Linked DNA regions of Homo sapiens: region 2 is linked to region 1. The links come from fine-mapping of genetic effects on gene expression. A gene starts in region 1. The other region holds a variant in brackets. All regions are shown on one strand. Distances are from middle to middle.

Region 1 (9,083 bases):
GGCACTGAGGCTGTCCAAGGACATAGGACGACTCATTGAAGTGAGGGCCACGCCTACCACCCCACCCTCTCCTAGCCCTATTACCTCCCCTATTCCTCCCTGGACTCCTTCAGACTCTCCCTAGCACTCCAATTGGGTTGGGCTCCAGCTGGCCCAGATATTTGTCTGCAGGGTGGGTGTCTTCCCTGGCCCTGCTGGTCCCTACCTCAGAGACTATGGCTCAGGGAAGGGCAGGGGTGATGTACTGCTTCTGGCCATAGGCTGTGGAAACTGCTGTGATGCCCCAGTGGCAGCGGCGGGAGCTGCTGGCCACAGTGAAGATGCTGCAGCGGCGTGCCAACACTGCCATCCGTAAGCTGCAAATGGGACAGGTGAGAGGAGGTTTGGCTGCACCCATGTGCCCAGAGACACTCCAGCAGATACACTGAGAAGTCTCAAGGGCTGGGGCATGGGGGTGAGTCAGAGGCTGTGCAAGGACGGGGTGGTGGCAGCTTCCTTCTCCTGCCAGCTGAGAACCATCACCCAGGCCATTCCCCCACTTCTGTCTCTTTCAAACTGTGTTTCTCCCCCAACTCCCAAGTCTGGCTCAGAACCCCCGGAAGCCTACTGACTTGATTAGTGCCATTCAGCCCTGATTGCACCTCCACTGTGGATCCCCCTTTCTCCCGCCCACTCCTGGTCCATCTGTGCTCTGACCTTCCTCCTTTCACCTTCAGCGACCTATTTGTAGGGGCCTGAAGCTATGATGAAAGGGAAGTGGTGAGGGAAGTGAGGAAGGACACATGTGGGACCCAAAAAGGAGGCCACCCTAGGCAGAGTCCCTGCCACCTCTGCCTAGAGCTAATGACTTTTGGGGTGGGTGGGGGAAGCAGGGGATTGCTCAGCTGGGGCTTAGTTCAGAAGTTGGGGCTAATTGGAAACCTGCCTCTCAGCCTGACCCCTCTGCTTGTCCTTCCTGCCCCATAGGCTGCAAAGAAAACTCAGGAGCTGCTGGAGCGGCACTCGAAGGGGCCTCTGATTGTGGACACAGTCTCTGCTGAGTCTCTCTCAGTGAGTGCTAGCCAAGCCGGGCTGCCCCAGGGTCTGGGGAGGGCAAAGTCCTGACCAGGAGACAGCTAGGGGTCTGGGAAGCGATGGGCTCACCATCTGTCTTTCGTGGTCCAGGTGCTGGTGAAGGTGGTACGGCAGCTGTGTGAGCAGGCCCCCAGCACGTCTGTGCTCCTACTCAGCCCCCAGCCCATGGGGAAGGTGCTGTGTGCCTGTCAGGTGGCCCAGGTGAGGGAAGTGGGAGAGCAGCCCACCGCCCCCATTAATACCCATCCTGGTCCAGCTCTCTGATTTTACACCTTTAATTCCTCCCAAAGGGGCCAAGGCTGGGTGGAAGTATCTATGAGGATACTCCAGGACAGGGATGGGGAATCTCCTTGTTCCTGAAAACAGCCCCTCCCCACCCCAGAAGGCACCAAGAGATTCCTTAATTCCTAACCCCTCCCAGGCCTCACATCCCTTGTAAACAAGTAGCAGATGTTCACGTTCATACACCTCCCCACACACATTTCCAGCCCAAACCTTCTCCGGCTCATCACCTGACTGCCCCACCATGTGCCCAGCTGGGAAGGGGGCACTGATGACCTTCAGCTCCACTCTTGAGGGTACCTTGAGTGGATGCTGGCAGGGAGGGCCACTCTGCATCGCTTCCTCTTCTGATTCTGTTCCTAGGGTGCCATGCCCACCTTCACAGCAGAGGCCTGGGCACTGGCAGTGTGCAGCCACATGGGGGGCAAGGCGTGGGGCTCACGAGTGGTGGCCCAAGGCACCGGAAGCACTACTGACCTGGAAGCTGCCCTCAGTATAGCCCAAACCTATGCCCTCAGCCAGCTCTGACCCAGGTCCGCCCAGGGACCCACATGGACTAAAGGCAATGCCAGGAGCCCTGAAGGAGCCAGCAGAACCTTCCCACATGCTGAAGCGAGGACTAGAGGCTGGAGGCCAAGCAGCTGAGCCAAAGAAGATCACCTGGGCCAGGGCCTACGTGACACAAGGAGACATGGGCTAGGGAAGGCAGAACTGGGCCCAAAGACACACACCCCCTTGGTGAAAGAGAAGACATGGACAATTATGGCTGTGACTGCACATTAGAAATTATTTCACTGGCCGGGTGTGGTGGTTCACACCTGTAATCCAAGCACTTTGGGAGGCCGAGGCAGGTAGATCATGAGGTCAGGAGATCAAAACCATCCTGGCTAACATGGTGAAACCCCATCTCTACTAAAAATACAAAAAATTAGCCGGGTGTGGTGGCACACGCCTGTAGTCCCAGCTACTCGGGAGGCTGAGGCAGAAGAATCGCTTGAACCTGGGAGGTGGAGGTTGCAGTGGGCCAAGATCGCACCACTGCACTCCAGCCTGGGTGACAGAGCGAGACTCTGTCTCAAATAATTATTTCACAGAGGATAGCAAGCTCCAGAAGGTTCTATTACCTTTAAAAAAGAGTAGTTTTGCCCCTCCCAGCAACCTAAGACCAGTCTGAACTCACACTGTCTGAAAGGCCACCCAGGATCCAAATCGGGCCATCTTCATTGCCATGAGTGTTCGGACAGGCTCTGCGTGCCAGGCAACAGTGGGCAGACAAAGGGCTCCCTGGCTACTGGGAAGATACAGAACCATCCTGTGAAAATCATTTCAGCACTGGAGACCTTCTTTGCTATTACTTCTTTCATTAACAATGACCTCTAATTTAAATTGGGCCCTGCTGGTTTGTTGATGAATTGAGCAACTGAGAACGTGGCGGGCACTAAACTGACAGTTCCTTCCTTCATGGAGCCTGCTTCATGTGGAGGAAACAGGAAATAAAGCAAAAGAAGAGGGTCAGGCTTGGTGGCTCATGCCTATAATCCTGGCATTTTAGGAGGCTGAGGTTGGAGAATCGCTTGAGGCCAGAAGTGCAAGACCAGCCTGCGCAAACAGCAAGACCCTGTCTACAAAAAAAAAAAAAAGTAATCTTTATGCCTCAGCCTCCCAGGTAGCTGAGACTACCCACACCTTGGTCCCAGCTACTTGGGAGGCTGAGGTGGGAAAATCACTTTGCCCAGGAATTCAAGGCCGCAGTGAGCTATGATTGCACCACTGCACTCCAGGCAACAGAGTGAGACCCTGTCTTAAAAAAAAGAAGGGAGAAAGTGTCAGATGGTGATGAGGTCTGGGGGGGAAATAGAGAATGGGGATCAGGAGTGTGGATGGTGATATTCCCTCACCAAGAGGTGACATGTGAGCAGGGAGCTGGGAGGTGAGGGTGTGACCCGTGTGGAAATCAGGGAAAAGCATTCCAGCCTGAGGGAACAGCCAATGCAGAGGCCGTGAGGTGGCCAGTGCCACTGAGCAGTGAGCTGGGATAGGGGCAGGTGAGGAGGCTGGAGAGCGGGGTCAGACAAACAATATGCTTATTAAAACAAGTTGTACAGCACCTGCCTCAAGCCTGAGCTGAAGCTGAAAATTGGCACTTCAAAGCAGGAGGAAGCAGAGATGGAGGAAAGCCCTCCTTCCCTACCAGAATGAGTCCACCTCAGACAGCCAGACTTTGGACCTCTGCCTTTGTTCCTAGATCTCTGTTGCTAGATGAAGGAAAGGGCCTCAGGGGATCCATCTTCAAATCAAGGGCTCCCTGGCTACCAAATTCTGTCTAGTAAAAATTATTCGAGCAGCGTGGGCCCGCCTGGCATCATTTTCTGCAGTTTCTCATTCTAATTAAGGCACTGATGATTTGCTGGTAAGGCACTGCTGAGGGCTTGAAGGGACCCAATCCCGGGTGCCTGGCCCCTCACTGCTTGCAAAGCAGCATCCTGGCCACTGGGGCAGTAGCCTGTTTAGCAGTGCTCACCACAGGCCCAGGTTCAAGCTCCTCCGCGAGCGCCAAGATGAGTTTTGGCACCCCTGATTTATTGATGAGTTAACAGAGCTTCGAGATGTTCATCCAGGGTAACCAACTAGTAGTCCTCGGCAGAGCTGAAGTCAAAGCTACCCTTTGAAAGCCCCGCCACCCTGGCTGCCTCTCCCTTCCTGAAGGCCAATTTCTTTTTTTTTACTAGCCGTCCCTCTGGTCTGTCCCTCTCGCCCTCCAGGAGATCTGGGGCCCCAACCACATCTTGTCGCGCCAGGGCTGGAAGAGAGTTTGGCACAGGGCATGGACTGTGTGAAGGAGCGCTGTGTTGGCCTGGAACCTTCCTGCGTCTGGTACCAGACCTTCAGCTGGGGGAAAGGTGGAAGGTGCCCTCCCTCCCGCAGGGCCTAAGGTCAACAGGAGGCCTCACGGGAGTTCCAGTGACTTCTACAGGTGCCTTGGAGAAGGTGCGTCCACCCTCCTCTTCTTCCACAGACGCTTTTCCTGGACCAGCTCCCTATCCATTGCCACACAAAAGCTACCAAGAGAGCACAAGCACTCCAGACCAGCAGCCCTGCCCGACCCCCGCCTCCCGCAGAAAGCCCACCCGTTCCTAGACACGTCCCACGGAAGCACAGGGCATAGCGCAAGGCCACAGTCCCACTACCCGCAAAGCGGCCGCTTCCACGGAACCGTCCCGAGGCCGGGCCTGGCCACCCTGCGCGCGAGTAAGCCGCGTGCCTGGCGCGCAGCGGCAGCGGCAGCGGAGGAAGCAGCGGCGCGCTCGTCCTCCCGGCCCGGCCCGCTCCTAGCAACGCGGGGCGTCCCCAACGACAAAGACCTGCGCCGGCGCGCGGGACTCTGCGTGAGGCGAGCGCCGGGGCTCCCGGAGCGGGTGAGGCGACCTCCGGGAGTGGGGACACCCAGCCCCGGTCTCCCTTATCGGGGCCCCCTCTGGCCGGCTGGGCCCGGGAGCCCCTCTAGCGTCCTCTGCCCACACCGGCCCGAAGCCCACGGGCGGCCATTGCCTGGGTTGCGTTTTCCGTGGCGGGGAAGCGCCGGTCCGTACCCACGGGAGACCCCACGCCCTCCACGCGAGGACGCCCCGCGCCTCCTCCCCACCACAGTCACTGTCTGCAAACCGTCTGGCCCGGGGCTGGGGATCCGAGTGAGGCGAGGGGAGGGACTGGGAAGAAGAGGGGGAAAGTGGGGCATCCGTAGGGCGTGGAGGAGAGCGGTCCCAAGCCCTGGGGCCCTAGGCTTCTCCGAAAGGCCGTCCGTTCCCATCACCCGAGGGCTGTAATCCCTCCCGCGGGTGCGGAAGCTTCCTCATCTCCCTACCTCCCACTGCACTGCCGGTTTCCCTGGGTTACCAAGGAGAAGCCAGCGCCTCTACACCCCAGGTAGGATGGGGGAGGGACTCCTGGCCTTTGGAGCTGAGCTTCTCTGCTGGGGTGTCTGAGCTGAAGGTAGGGAGGAGGGGTGGGAGACTCCAGAGCCGCTGGAGTCACTTTTGAGACAACAGACCTGAGTGGTCAGGAGTTGGGAGGAGGCCAGCCCAGGGGCTGTGGTAAGTGAACTGGCGGTTTCACCCAGCCCAAGTCCAAGCACACGGGCCGAGGCTCAGTTGGAGAAAGTTTTTTGCCCTTCCACAAGTGGAATTCCCAACTTGGGAGTGACTTACCCCAAAGTAAGACATGGTGGGCATGAAGGATATGGAGGTGGCTGTAGACAAAAGCCCAGAGCCCTGAGAACAGAGGAGGGCTCTCCTGAGGGGATCTGGGGTGGGAGCGGCTGAGAAGGCAGAGAAGGCAGTCAGAGCAGTGGGTGCAAAGCCAGCTCCTGGGGAAGTGTCCCGGGCACAGAGGCGCTGTCTGCCCAAAGAGGGCCGGGTGTCTCCACTTCTCCACTAAGAGGAAGGGAGGAGGGGACAGTTGAGGACCAGAACTGTGATGCACAAGAAGGTGAGAATGCAAACCTACAGCATCTTCCTCGTGTTCCCATTAGGGCAGGTGGAAGGAGCTCCTACCCAGAATGGTTAGATTTAGCTGGGGACCTGAGGAAGGATGGAGAAGACCTGAGACTTCCTGTGGAGGGAATATGCCAGGGGCAGGAGAGCACCACTCTGCAGCACTCTGTTGGGCTCCTTGCACCCTCCAAAGGATGCAGGCAGTGGTCCAGCCTTGCGGAAGTCTCCTATACCCAGCAGTGAACTGGAAGAGGGAGCCTGGACTATTTAGGTCAGCACCAAGGGTATAACCCTGGGCTCCATATTGGTGAACAAGAGAGCTCATGAGCTGGAGAAAGTGGGAGACCCACTGGAAAAGTGCTATGAATGACTGAGTTGGGAGCAATTTATAAGCAACCCCAGCATCTCATGGAAGTAAGAGCATTAGACAGACACAAACTAAAACCTCAGCTTCTCCACTTACTAGCTAGTGACATTTAGTAAGTTACTTAAGCTTTCTAAGTTTCAGTTTCCTCATTTGTGAAATGGGGACAATAGTGTTAAATAATAATCCTCAATAATTAATTTGAGATTTTAATAAAATTATGTAGTAAGGTATCTAGCATCTTCACTACAATATCTAACACACATCTTGAGTGCTGGCTCTGGGCCCAGCACTATATGAAATGTCTCACACACATTAGCTCCTTAATCTTCTGAGTAATCCTATGAAATAGATACTATTAAGTACTGTCCCCACGTTATAGATGAAGAAACTGAGGCAAGTGGGGACCTGCCCAAGGTTGCACAGATAGTGGGGGGCACCGTGGAGATTTGACTTGAGGCAGCAGCACAACTCCTGAGTACTTAGCCAGCTGCTGTCCTGCCTCCTGCTATGTACATGTTATTGAAGGCCTAGAGCTCTCAATAAATCATAGCTATATATAGCCAAGGGTATGGTTCCCAGAACACCTGTCCACCAGATTCAAGCCATCAGAAATGAGGACAACCCTGGCCAAACTGGAACATCTTGTCACTTTCTATTACCTGTGCTTGGGCATGGAAAGAGCAGTCCACACCCAATCCTTTGAGTTAATGTCCTGGTATAGACGTTGTTCCCTGTGTGTGATTTCAGGACCCTGGACCCTGGTCCTGAGGATGCAGAGTAGGGGCCCAGGGGAGGAGGATTGGCCTTTCCCTGGGGACTGTGGTCCCAGGTTAGAGACACAACCATGTGAAGCCAAACAAGCTGGTGAGGCAGGCCCCAGAGAAGTGAAAGTCCACTGCACGTGTCCCCACTCTCCCACTTTCCCCCTCTGAGAGCGCAGCACATCCTTGGATGGAGACACCAGGTGGTGGCACAAGACGTACCCACTCCTGGTGGCCCTGACCTCTCTGGAATGTCAGGATTCCTGCCCTGCCCATGTTCAAGACTGGAGTCTTGAACATGCTCCTAGTCTTCAAACTCTGGCATTCTCTGACTGGCCCAACAGGTTCCCAGGGAAAGAAAGCTCCGGAGAGGAAGGTGACCCTTCAGCCACCTCCAGGACTGCCCTCTGTGGGTCCTTGGGGACTGTCCATGTGCCCGGGGCCCCCAGCTATTGGGTATCCACCCATCCCTGCAGGCTCCCAGGGAAGATAGTGCCACCTACTTGCACCCTCAGCTGCAGGCTGATGACTGCCAGGCCAGACTAAGACCAATCTGTGAAACAGGCAGAGCTCTCTCAGACTCCTGTCTTCTCCTTTACCCACTCCCCACCTCCTCTCCTTTCTGTGGTTATTCTCCTTGCCTCCTTTCTTTTTCTTTCTTTCTTTTTTTTTTTTTTTTTTTTTGAGACAGAGTTTTGCTCTCATTGCCCAGGCTGGAGTGTAGTGGCGCAATCTCAGCTCACTGCAACCTCTGCCTCCTGGGTTCAACCTTCATTTTTTTCCCCTAATTATCTTATAAACCACCTCTTTCAGCCTCTCAAGTAGCTGGGATTACAGGCATGTGCCACCATGCCTGGCTAATTTTTGTATTTTTAGTAGAGACGGGGTTTCACCATGTTGATCAGGCTGGTCTTGAACTCTTGACCTCAGGTAATCCACCCTCCTCGACCTCCCAAAGTGCTAAGACTACAGGCATGAGCCACCATATCCCGCCTCCCTTGCCCCTTTTCTAACTTTGCTTTTTGTATCTGAAACTCATTCACACTAAGGTGTGGAATACATATATCCTGATATCTTATATGTAGTCATGTGTATTATATATGTAATTTCTGCACACTTAAACTGTCAGAAACAATATATTACAACTTCTACTTTTTAAAAAGTTTGCTACATTAGGCTGGGTGCAGTGGCTCACGCCTGTAATCTCAGCGCTTTGGGAGGCCAAGGCGGGCAGATCACCTGAGGTCGAGAGTTCAAGACCAGCCTGACCAATATGGAGAAACCCCGTCTCTACTAAAAATACAAAATTAGCCAGCCGTGGTGGTGCATGCCTGTAATCCCAGCTATTCGGGAGGCTGAGACAGGAGAATCACTTGAACCCAGGATGCAGAGGTTGCGGTGAGCTGAGATTGCGCCATGGCACTCCAGCCTGGGCAACAAGAGCGAAACTCTGTCTCAAAAAAAAAAAAAGTTTGCTACATTAGTGTCAGTATACATTTTATGATTTACTATGCTTTTGTTTGACCTAAAATGATGAGATATGTTTTTAAAAAGCAGTTCAAGGTTAACATATGGATATAGGCATACAAGTATTGATATTAAATTTTGTTTCATTTAGGGGGAAAATGCATTTACCCTAACAGGGATGAAGACTGTACATTAGGGCCGTGAAATTCCCCTAGTGGAGTGCCAAAGGCCTGGGAGCGCACTTAGCCCGGGGAGGCCCTCCCCACTTCCCAAGGAGCAAGAATATGCTTTCTTCTTGCCTAGTGGAGGGCAGGAACAGTGAGGGGAGGGGGACATACTGAGTGACTGTGGAGGGGTAGTGTATTGTGGCTAGAGGTAGGAGACCTGCCCTCAGACGCTGGCCCCAGCTCTCATAGGTGTTTTAGGGCCAGTCATTTCCTGTTTCCTTGTTTCTTCATCTGTAAAATGGGGATAAGAAAGCCCATCCTAGCTCCATTATAGGGTGGTTGAAGAGTCACATGAGAAGATTTTTTTTATTTTTTAGAGACGGCATCTCACTATGTTGGCCAGGTTGGTCTTGAATTCTTAGCCTCAAGCAATCCTCCCACCTTGGCCTCCCAAAGTTCTAGGATTACAGGTGTG
Region 2 (9,307 bases), 110 kb after region 1:
GTGGCTCACACCTGTAATCCCAGCACTTTGGGAGGCTGAGGTGGGCAGATCACCTGAGGTCAGGAGTTCAAGACCAGCCTGGCCAACATGGAGAAACCCTGTCTCTACTAAAAAATGCAAAAATTAGCCGGGCATGGTGGCACGTGCCTGTAATACCAGCTACTCGGGAGGCTGAGATAGGAGAATCGCTTGAACCCAGGAGACAAAGGCTGCAGTGAGCCAAGATCCCGCAACTACATTCCAGCCTAGGAGACAGAGTGAGACTCTGTCTCAAAAAAAAAAAAATTATAAGAAAAAACAAAAACGGGCTGCGCACAGTGGCTCACGCCTGTAATCCCAGCACTTTGGGAGGCTGGGGGGAGCTGATCACCTGAGGTCAGGAGTTCGAGACCAGGCTGGCCAAGGTGGTGAAACCCCATCTCTACTAAAAATATAAAAGCCAGCCAGGCGTGGTGGTGGGCACCTGTAATCCCAGCTACTTGGGAGGCTGAGGCAGGAGAATCGCTTGAACATGGGAGGCAGAGGTTGCAGTGAGCCTAGATCACACTATTGCACTCCAGCTTGGGCAACAGGAGCAAAACTTTGTCTCGAAAAAGAAAAAGAAAAAGAAAAAGAAAAAAAATGTCCAGTACAAAAATGGGCAAGGACAAGAGGCTCAGGCAGGAGGATCACTTGAGCCCAGGCGTTCCAGGCTATAGTGCCTGATGATCCCCCCTGTAAATAGCTGCCATACTCCAGCCTGGCAACATAGTGAGACCTTTAAAAAAAAATGTATATATATATATATAAAATATGTAACTCTATATTCTTTGGGAACATATATATAACATATATGTTACATATAATATATGTATTTAATATATAACATATGTTATATATACACATATATATGTAACATATATACCATGTTATATATAACATATATTTCATATATATAACATATATGTTCCCAAAGAATATAAAGAGATAGTTCATAGAAAATAAAATGCAAGCAAAAGCAAAAAATGAACAGTTGCTCAATCTCATTTGCTGTAAGAGAAATGCAAATTATGGCTATGCTGAGATACCATTTTTCTTCTACCAGATTAGAAATATGTAAAAACTTGCCCACACACGGTGTTTATGAGTCTGTAGGGGAAAACGGCAGTCTCTTATCTTGCTTGTGGGAGTACAAATTAGTATTACCCTTATAGAGGGGAATTTCCTTTTTTTCAGAATTACTGATATACATACTCTTTAGCCCAATAATCCTACTTTTAGAAATTTATTGTATAAAAATATTTTACTGGGATAAAATAACATGTATAGTGTTATTTATTGCAGCACTATTTATAATAATGAAAGATTGGAAAAAACTGTCAACAAAGAACTGCTAAATAACGAGACTTTAATCCAGTGCAATACTATACAGCTATAAAAAAAATAAGGAAGATCTCGGCCAGGCACGGTGGCTTATGCCTGTAATCCTAGCACTTTGGGAGGCCGAGGCGAGCAGATCACTTGAGGTCAGGAGTTCAAGACCATTCCTGGCCAGCATGGTGAAACCCCGTCTCTACCAAAAATATAAAAAATTAGCCGGGCATGGTGGCGGGTGCCTGTAATCCCAGCTACTCGGGAGGCTGAGGCAGGATAATCGCTTGAACCCGGGAGGTGGAGGTTGCAGTGAACCGAGATGGCGCCATTGCACTCCAGCCTGGGCAACAAGAGCAAAACTCCAACTCAAAAAAAAAAAAAAAAAAGGAAGCTCTCTATATACTAATAGAAAAATATCTCCAAGATATATATTTTAAAATTGCTTTTAAAAATAAGCTAGCTATTGGGCTAGGCACAGTTGCTCATGCCTGTAATCTCAATACTTCGGGAGGTCAAGGCAAGAAGATCATTTGAGCCCAGGAGTTCGAGACCAGCCTGGGCAACACAGTGAGACTGTCTTTACAAAAAATTAAAAAAAAAAAAAAGCTGGCCATGTTGGCGTGCACCCATAGTCCCAGCTACATGGCAGAGTGAGGCAGAAAGATCACCTGAGCCCAGGAGTTCAAGGCTGCAGTGAGCCATGATTGTACCACTGCACTGCAGCCTGGGCGACAGAGGGAGACCCTGTACCTAAACAAAACAAACAAAAAGCAACCACAAAAAAACAAAAGAAGCTAATGAGCTCATCCTGCTTTACTTTTTCTTCACTCAGCATCTTCTCAGGCTCTACAGCTGTGGCTGGGTGGCATCTAGTCTGCTGCTTCTGTTGCATGGCATTCCATGGTTTTCAAGCACATTTGGGACCCAATTTTCTCAGAGACCAGAGGATGAAGCTGCGAAGATATTCTGAGGGAGAAGAGAAGTGGGGTTGAGGCTGTTTCTCTGATGTAGCCTCATTCTTTGCAGTAAAAATGAAGGCTGTAGTGAGAGGTCTGGGGGAAATCAGGGCAGTGGGTGTGGAGAATGGCAGTCAGTCATCAGGAGAAGAAATCTAGCTTGCCACGTGGCCTCCATCGAGGTCAACCAGCATGAATCAGGAGGATGCAGGCAGCATGGTTTAGTGCCCATTCCCAGCAAAACTCAGCCACCTGGTTTTATGAGCAGAGGACTAAAAGGGACTAGAAAGTATGGGCTGCCTGCCTGTGGTTACAGGTCCCTTGGAGACAGCAAGGACATAGTGGGAATGGCCTCCCAGGGCACTAAGGCTGAGCTGGGATGGAGTTGCAGTGAAGTTGGATGGAAATGGAGCCTGAAGGGACTAGAAGAATGGTGTGCCTCATTTTCCAAATTTTAAATAACATTGTATATAGCCATTGCTAATAATATTTAATGCAAGCAAATGGTAAACACTAATGTCAAGGACTATTGTAAATCTAATATGCATCTTGCTTATTCAACTGTATGTCATAACCCTCATGCCATTTGTGTTATTTAGTTCAATGGCTTGATATTTTATCGTGTGTAACATCTAATGTGTATTTATTTATTTATTTTTGAGACAGAATCTCCCTCTGTTGCCCAGGCTGGAATGCAGTGGTTTGATCAGAGTTCTCTGCAGCCTTGAACTCCTGGGCTCAAGCAATTTTCCTGCCTCAGCCTCCCGAGTAACTAGGACTATAGGCATGACCCACACCACTCCTGGCTATAACATGTTCACAATTGAAAATTTGTTTTTTTTATTTTTTTACTATTATAGATAATATCAAAGTTTTTTTAAAAAAGAATGATATGCCTAAGTGCTTCACTTTCATTATCGCAGTTGTCCATACAACAGCCCTCTGAGATAGGAATTGTCACCTCTAATTGACAGATTCAAAAGGATACTCTGTTAGAAAGGTAAAATAATTTGCCCAAAGACACATAGCTCGTGAATCTTCACCTTAAGCCACTATGCAAATTGTTGGGAAAAGAAAATAACTTTTATTTGGTGAGGTGGCAGGTGCCTGTAATCCAGCTTCTTGGGAGACTGAGGCCTGGGAATCGCTTGAACCTGGGAGGCGGAGGTTGCAGTGAGCTGAGATCGCGCCACTGAACTCCAGCCTGGGCGACAGAGAGAGACTCTGTCTCAAAAAAATAAAAATAAATAAAATAAAAATAACTTTTATCTGAGGAATGCAAATCCTTTTAATTATCAGACCCAGAGAGACAGTAACATGACACACAATTGCACCCTATACCCTGCACTCCCCTTTAAGTTATGTATTCATCTCTTGAAACTGCTTGCTACTTCTACAG[G/C]TAGCTATAAATTATCCTAATAATGGGACACCAGACACTATAGCCAATAACTAATCAATGTTATTTCTGAAAACCGGTGAGAATTCCTAACAAATAACTTTGTATCATTCCACTCACTGTCCTCCTTTTTTACCTTTCTTTTCTTTTCTTTTTTGTTTTTTGAGACGGAGTCTCACGCTCTCACCCTGGCTGGAGTACAATGGCGCAATCTTGGCTCACTGCAACCTCCATCTCCCGGGTTCAAGCAATTCTCCTGCCTCAGCCTCCCAAGTAGCTGGGATTACAGGTGCCCACCACCACACCTGGCTAATTTTTTGTATTTTTAGTAGAGACGGGGTTTCGCCATGTTGGGCAGGTTAGAACTCCTGACCTCGTGATCGGCCTGCCTCGGCCTCCCAAGGTGCTGGGATTACAGGCGTGAGCCACTATGCCCAGCCCTTTTTTACCTTTAAAAATGCATTTTGGGCCGGGCACAGTGGCTCATGACTTTAATCTCAGCACTTTGGGAGGCTCGGGGGGGTGGGCGGTGGGGCAGATTACTTGAGGTCAGTAGTTTGAGGCTAACCTGGCCAACATGGTGAAACCCTGTGTCTACTAAAAATACAAAAATTAGCCATGCATGGTGATGTGCACCTGTAGTCCCAGCTACTCAGGAGGCTGAGGCAGGAGGATCACCTGAGCCCGGGAGGCAGAGGTTATAGTAAGCCAAAACTGTGCCACTGCACTCCAGCCGGGTGACAAAGAGAGGCCCTGACACACACACACACACACACACACACACACCCCAAAACAAAACAAAACAAAAACCTTTTTGTTTTTTGAGACAAGGCCTCGCTCCGTCACCCAGGCAGGAGTGCATTGGCATGATCACATTTCACTGCAGCCTCGACCTCCTGGACTCAAGTGATCCTCCCACTTCAGCTCCCCACACAGCTGGGACCACATGTGTGCGCCACCAGTCCTGGCTAACTTTTTCTTTTCTTTTTTTGAGATAGTCTCACTCTGTCACCCAGGCTGGAGTGCAGTGGCACAATCTCAGCTCACTGCAACCTCCGCCTCCCGGGTTCAAGCGATTCTTATGCCTCAGCCTCCCGAGTAGCTGTGACTACAGCCGTGTGCCACCACGCCTGGCTATTTTTTGTATTTTTAGTAGAGATGGGGTTTCACCATGTTGGCCAGGCTGGTCTTGAATTTCTGGCCTCAAGTGATCTGCCCACCTCAGCCTCACAAAGTGCTGGGGTTATAGGTGTGAGCCACTGTACCCAGCCTAAAAATCCACTTGTAACTGCTGCTAATCGGGATGTATATTCAGAATAATTTGAATCTATTCTCCAGGGTTACAATCCTTAAGTTTAGCCCAAATAAACTCTCTACTTATGTGAAGTTTGCTTCATTTTATGTTTACAGAGTGTTCGTGAGTAACCAGCTTTGTTACAAACCGGAAGGGATAGTCCTGATTTGAGAGTTTTCTGCTTCCTTTCCATCCTGGCTTGAAGTTGGCAGCATTTCACCCTAGGCCATGGAACAAGAGGTGGGGTCAGCATCTTCCTAGGGTTCCCAGAACCAATCCGGACTGCCCGGGACCTCTCAGAGTCTCAAAGGACCTGCTAGGTTTTTGTTTTTAAAAGATGGAGTCCCCGTGTTGCCCAGGCTGGTCTCAAACTCCTCAGCCTCCCGAGTAGCTGGGATTACAGGCATGTGCCACCATGCCCAGCATGGACCTGTTAGCTTGAGGCTCTCACTGACCTCTCCCTGCTCTCTCTGGGGACTTTTGCTCATCACTCAGAGAAGCTCTGTGGAGAGCAGGTGGTGGCTGCCATCTCTTAGAGAGAGAGGGAGGACGACAAGTGGGAGAACAGTCTTTCAAAGAGGCTCCAAAGAGAGTGTGACCTATTCTTTCAGGCAGGACTGGAGACGGAGAGGAAGCAGGGAGGGCTGACAGGACAGGAAACGATTCCTCTGAAGGCGGCGTGGGGTGGTGATAATGGAGGGAAGGCGGCTTTATATCCAGGCAGACTAGCTTTAGTCTTTGAAGTCACAAAGAAGGCAGGGGCCAGGGCTGGTGCAGACAATCAGTCACCAGATTAAGGAAGATCAGAATCCCACCTGCCTCACTAAGCACACAAGGGCTGGGTTTAGTGCACGTGGAAGGAAGCTAGCGACCCCAGGAAGCTGCACAGGTACACAGAGACAGGAAGGGTTTAGCTTCATTGGGGATGACAGATCTCTAATCTAGGGGAAGTTGGGGGTGCTGTCTCTACCTGAGAGGCTGAGAAGCGCATGTGCTTGGGCTCCAGTGTCCCTGCCAGAAACCAGAAGGGGAGGCTGTGGAGGGCTCTGGAAGGACAGGAGGAGAAGTACAGTTTAGGGGCTGCTGTGAGTGGCCTGGGTGTTCTCACTACTGCAGGGGGCTGGGGCTGGAGTTGGGGTGTGGGCACCTGGGACAGAGACCCCGAGGTCAAAAACAGGTGGACCCAGAAATAAGTGTTTCTTCCATGCCTCCTGCAAGGACAGTAGCTTGACAAGCAACAAATTTCTTTTTTTTTTTTAATTTTCTTTTTAATTCTCAGCAAGGCAAGTTACTTCTATATAGAAGCGTGCGCCCTTATAGATGGAACAATGGTGAGCACACATTTGGACAAGGGAGGGGAAGGGGTTCTTATCCCTGATGCACGTGGCCCCTGCTGCTGTGTCGTTCCCCTATTGGCTAGGGTTAGACCGCACAGGCTAAACTAATTCTGATTGACTAATTTAAAGAGACTGACAGGGTGAGTGCTTTGGTGGGAGTCAGGGCAGAGCAGGTAGCAGGTGATTGGAATAAATTAGGGTGGAGCAGGTGATCGGAATGAGTCAGGGTGGAATAGGTAATTGAAAAGGTTGCTTTACGAGGAAGTGAAGTTTAAAAATAGAAGGCAAAGAATTGAACATACTGACATATTAATTCTTTGAAAAGAAATTTAGAACTCATATCTAACAATCCCTCCCCTTGTATTTCCTTACAGCTTTCTTTTCATACTTTTTTTTTTTTTAACATGTCTTGACTTAGTTGCTTTGCTTGATTTTCTAAAAGAAGAAGCTTCTCTGGATAAGGTGGAGGATAGTTAAGGGAGGTTTTAGTAAGTGGACAGGCAACAAATTTCTAACAATAATAATAATGATTTGAATCTGAACACCTTTAAGGCAGGAACGAGTTCACCTATTGCCACAGTCCTCAGCCTTCCCAGTCCCACACGAGGAGGATTTGTTCATTTATTTATTTAAATTGTTTTTGAGACAGAGTCTTGCTCTGTCACCCAGGCTGGAGTGAAGTGGTATGATCTTGTCTCACTGCAACCTCCACCCCCCAGGTTCAAGCAGTTCTCCTGCCTCAGCCTCCCAAGTAGCTGGGATTATAGGCGCGTGCCACTACGGCCAGCTAAGTTTTGTATTTTTAGCAGAGACGGAGTTTTGCCATGTTGGCCAGGGTGGTCTCAAACTCCTGACCTCAGGTGATCCACCTGCGTTGGCCTCCCAGAGTGCTGGGATTACAGGCGTGAGCCACCGCGCCCGGCAGTTCGTTCATTTATGTGACCTGCTGGCTGCAGGTGTCAGATTTTTAACCTTCGAGGCTCCTGCAGTGCCACCTTTGGGGACCCCAGTTTGAAGCAGCAGATGAGAGTCCTGGAGCCCTGGCTCAGCCCCCGTAGAAGCGCTCCACCATAGGGCACACCACACAGTTCTTCACAGGGAGGGACTTGTGTGCTTAGCATCTGGCACTGCCCATAAACGCCAACTATGGCCTCTAGTTATTGTGACAACTGCACATTTCTATATGCTCCCTATCACCCTTGGCTGAGAGCTACCCAATCCTTTGGTCCTGGGTAAGTGACTTCCACCCTTGCCAGTCTTTTCTTGGCATAAAAACACAGAGACATGGAAGCCAATGGCATGTGCTATTTATTAGAATAGTATCCACAGATGGGGAGGAAAACAGAGGCTGTGCCAGGATGGGTGGTCAGCAGGTAGGTGTGAGCAGGACAGCAAGCATGGAGGGTAAGAAACGGGCTACAAGTCCCTTCCCTATTCTTGGCCTCCCCAGCCAGGGGGACCCTGGGGAAGCATCAACTACTCTTTAGTAAAATATACTCTGAGAGAGCGATGGTGGGGGAAAGCCAGCCATCAGAAGCCGGGTTGGGGAAAAAAGAGAAAGCCTCTGAGCTGGGGGAGTGGGCACGGAGGTCCCACTGCTGCAGTAAACACGGCACCTGGGACCCGGGCACTGCCACCTGGAGCCCATTTCATCAGCAGAGACCGGAGAGCTGAGGGCTACAAGAAGCACCCCACCCTCCTGGGCTAGAACCTCGCTGCTGCTGCTGCTGGTAGAGATGACCAGGCTCCTACAGCGCCTCTATCCCCACATGGTCATCTGCAGCCACTGTGGAGACAGGAAGCAGATCCCAGGGTGGGAAGAGACGGGGGCAGGATGCTGGCCCGGGGACATCAGAGCTGGGTGGGGGTGGGGTTGAGGGGCAGGCAGGTGCAATCCTGCAGATTCCTTCCCACCCTTCTCCAAGTACCTGTTCCAGGCTCAAGCAAATATGGCCAGTATTCTTGGGGTCCATGGTTAGAAAGAATGCTGCGTTACAGAGGAAGCGGGGGAGAGGGGCTGAATGCTAAGTCAGTGTTCCGAAAGAACCACTCCCAACTAGGTAGGAAGGGGCGACACCAGGTGTTCCTGGCTGTTCCCCACATAAATCCCCTAGCCAAGTGGGGAATTAATGATAGCAACTCACATAGCCTCACCAGGAGCCAGGCCCAGTTCTGATTGCCTTCCATAGACTAACTGGTTTAACCTGCACCTCAGTCCTTTGAGGGCAGTACTATTATTATCCACATTCTAAAGAGGAGGGAATGGAGGCACAGAAAGATTAAGTGACTTGCTCAAGTCACCTCTGCCAGCAAGTGGCGGAGCTGGGCTTTGAATCCATTTCATGTGTGCCTTGTAAGGGGGAGGGGATCTGGAGCAGCACCCATCAGGGTGGGTGTTTGGGAAAGGGCCCGCGGCCCCTGGCCTAGGCTGGGGAGTGGGTAGATGCCTAACTCACTGAACATGGTCTTTAGCCTCAGGAAACAGCTGATGAAGCTGTCAAAGTCTATGATCAGGTCATCATCTGCATACCTGGCCACCAGGACCTGCATTACCTTGTTGTTCAGCTTGATGCCTGAGAGAGGGAGAGAGAAGTGGGGAGGGGAAAAGTCTGGGCCTCTGGACACTGCCATCCTCTTCCCTGCCCCAAGGCCCACTCCTGACCCTTGGCCACCTGCTTTCTCAATAACCAGGCGCATCTCATAGGAGTTCAAGGTGCCTGAATGGTCCTGGTCACACTCTCTGAAGATGTCCTGAAGAGACAGACAGATATGGTAGGGCCACATGCATGGCATGGTGGTTGAAATAATGAAATACTGAGGCCGGGCGCGGTGGCTCATGCCTGTAATCCCAGCACTTTGAAAGGCCGAGGCAGGCGGATCATCTGAGGTCAGGAGTTTGAGACCAGCCTGGCCAACATGACGAAACCCCGTCTCTAATAAAACTACAAAAATTAGCTGGGTGTGGTGGTGC

What was found.
Region 2: its variant is fine-mapped to the expression of DRC5 in prefrontal cortex (GTEx, PIP 0.97).

Annotation. Positions count from the first base shown.
Region 1 is chr6:44,293,348-44,302,430 of GRCh38, reverse strand. DRC5 (dynein regulatory complex subunit 5) reads left to right here and starts at 4,733. Exons shown (of 5, transcript NM_182539.4): 1 at 4,733-4,772. It overlaps AARS2 (alanyl-tRNA synthetase 2, mitochondrial), which reads left to right. Exons shown (of 22, transcript NM_020745.4): 18 at 1-40; 19 at 261-371; 20 at 967-1,050; 21 at 1,165-1,275; 22 at 1,720-3,700. The coding sequence ends at 1,884. RefSeq lists a silencer at 4,740-4,819.
Region 2 is chr6:44,182,721-44,192,027 of GRCh38, reverse strand. It overlaps CAPN11 (calpain 11), which reads right to left. Exons shown (of 23, transcript NM_007058.4): 20 at 9,009-9,087; 21 at 8,793-8,909; 22 at 8,265-8,323; 23 at 7,627-8,122. The coding sequence ends at 8,096. LOC105375072 (a long non-coding RNA gene) reads right to left here and starts at 6,045. Exons shown (of 3, transcript XR_926835.2): 1 at 5,970-6,045; 2 at 5,148-5,220; 3 at 2,087-2,319. The variant G/C (reference allele first, on the strand shown) is at 3,709.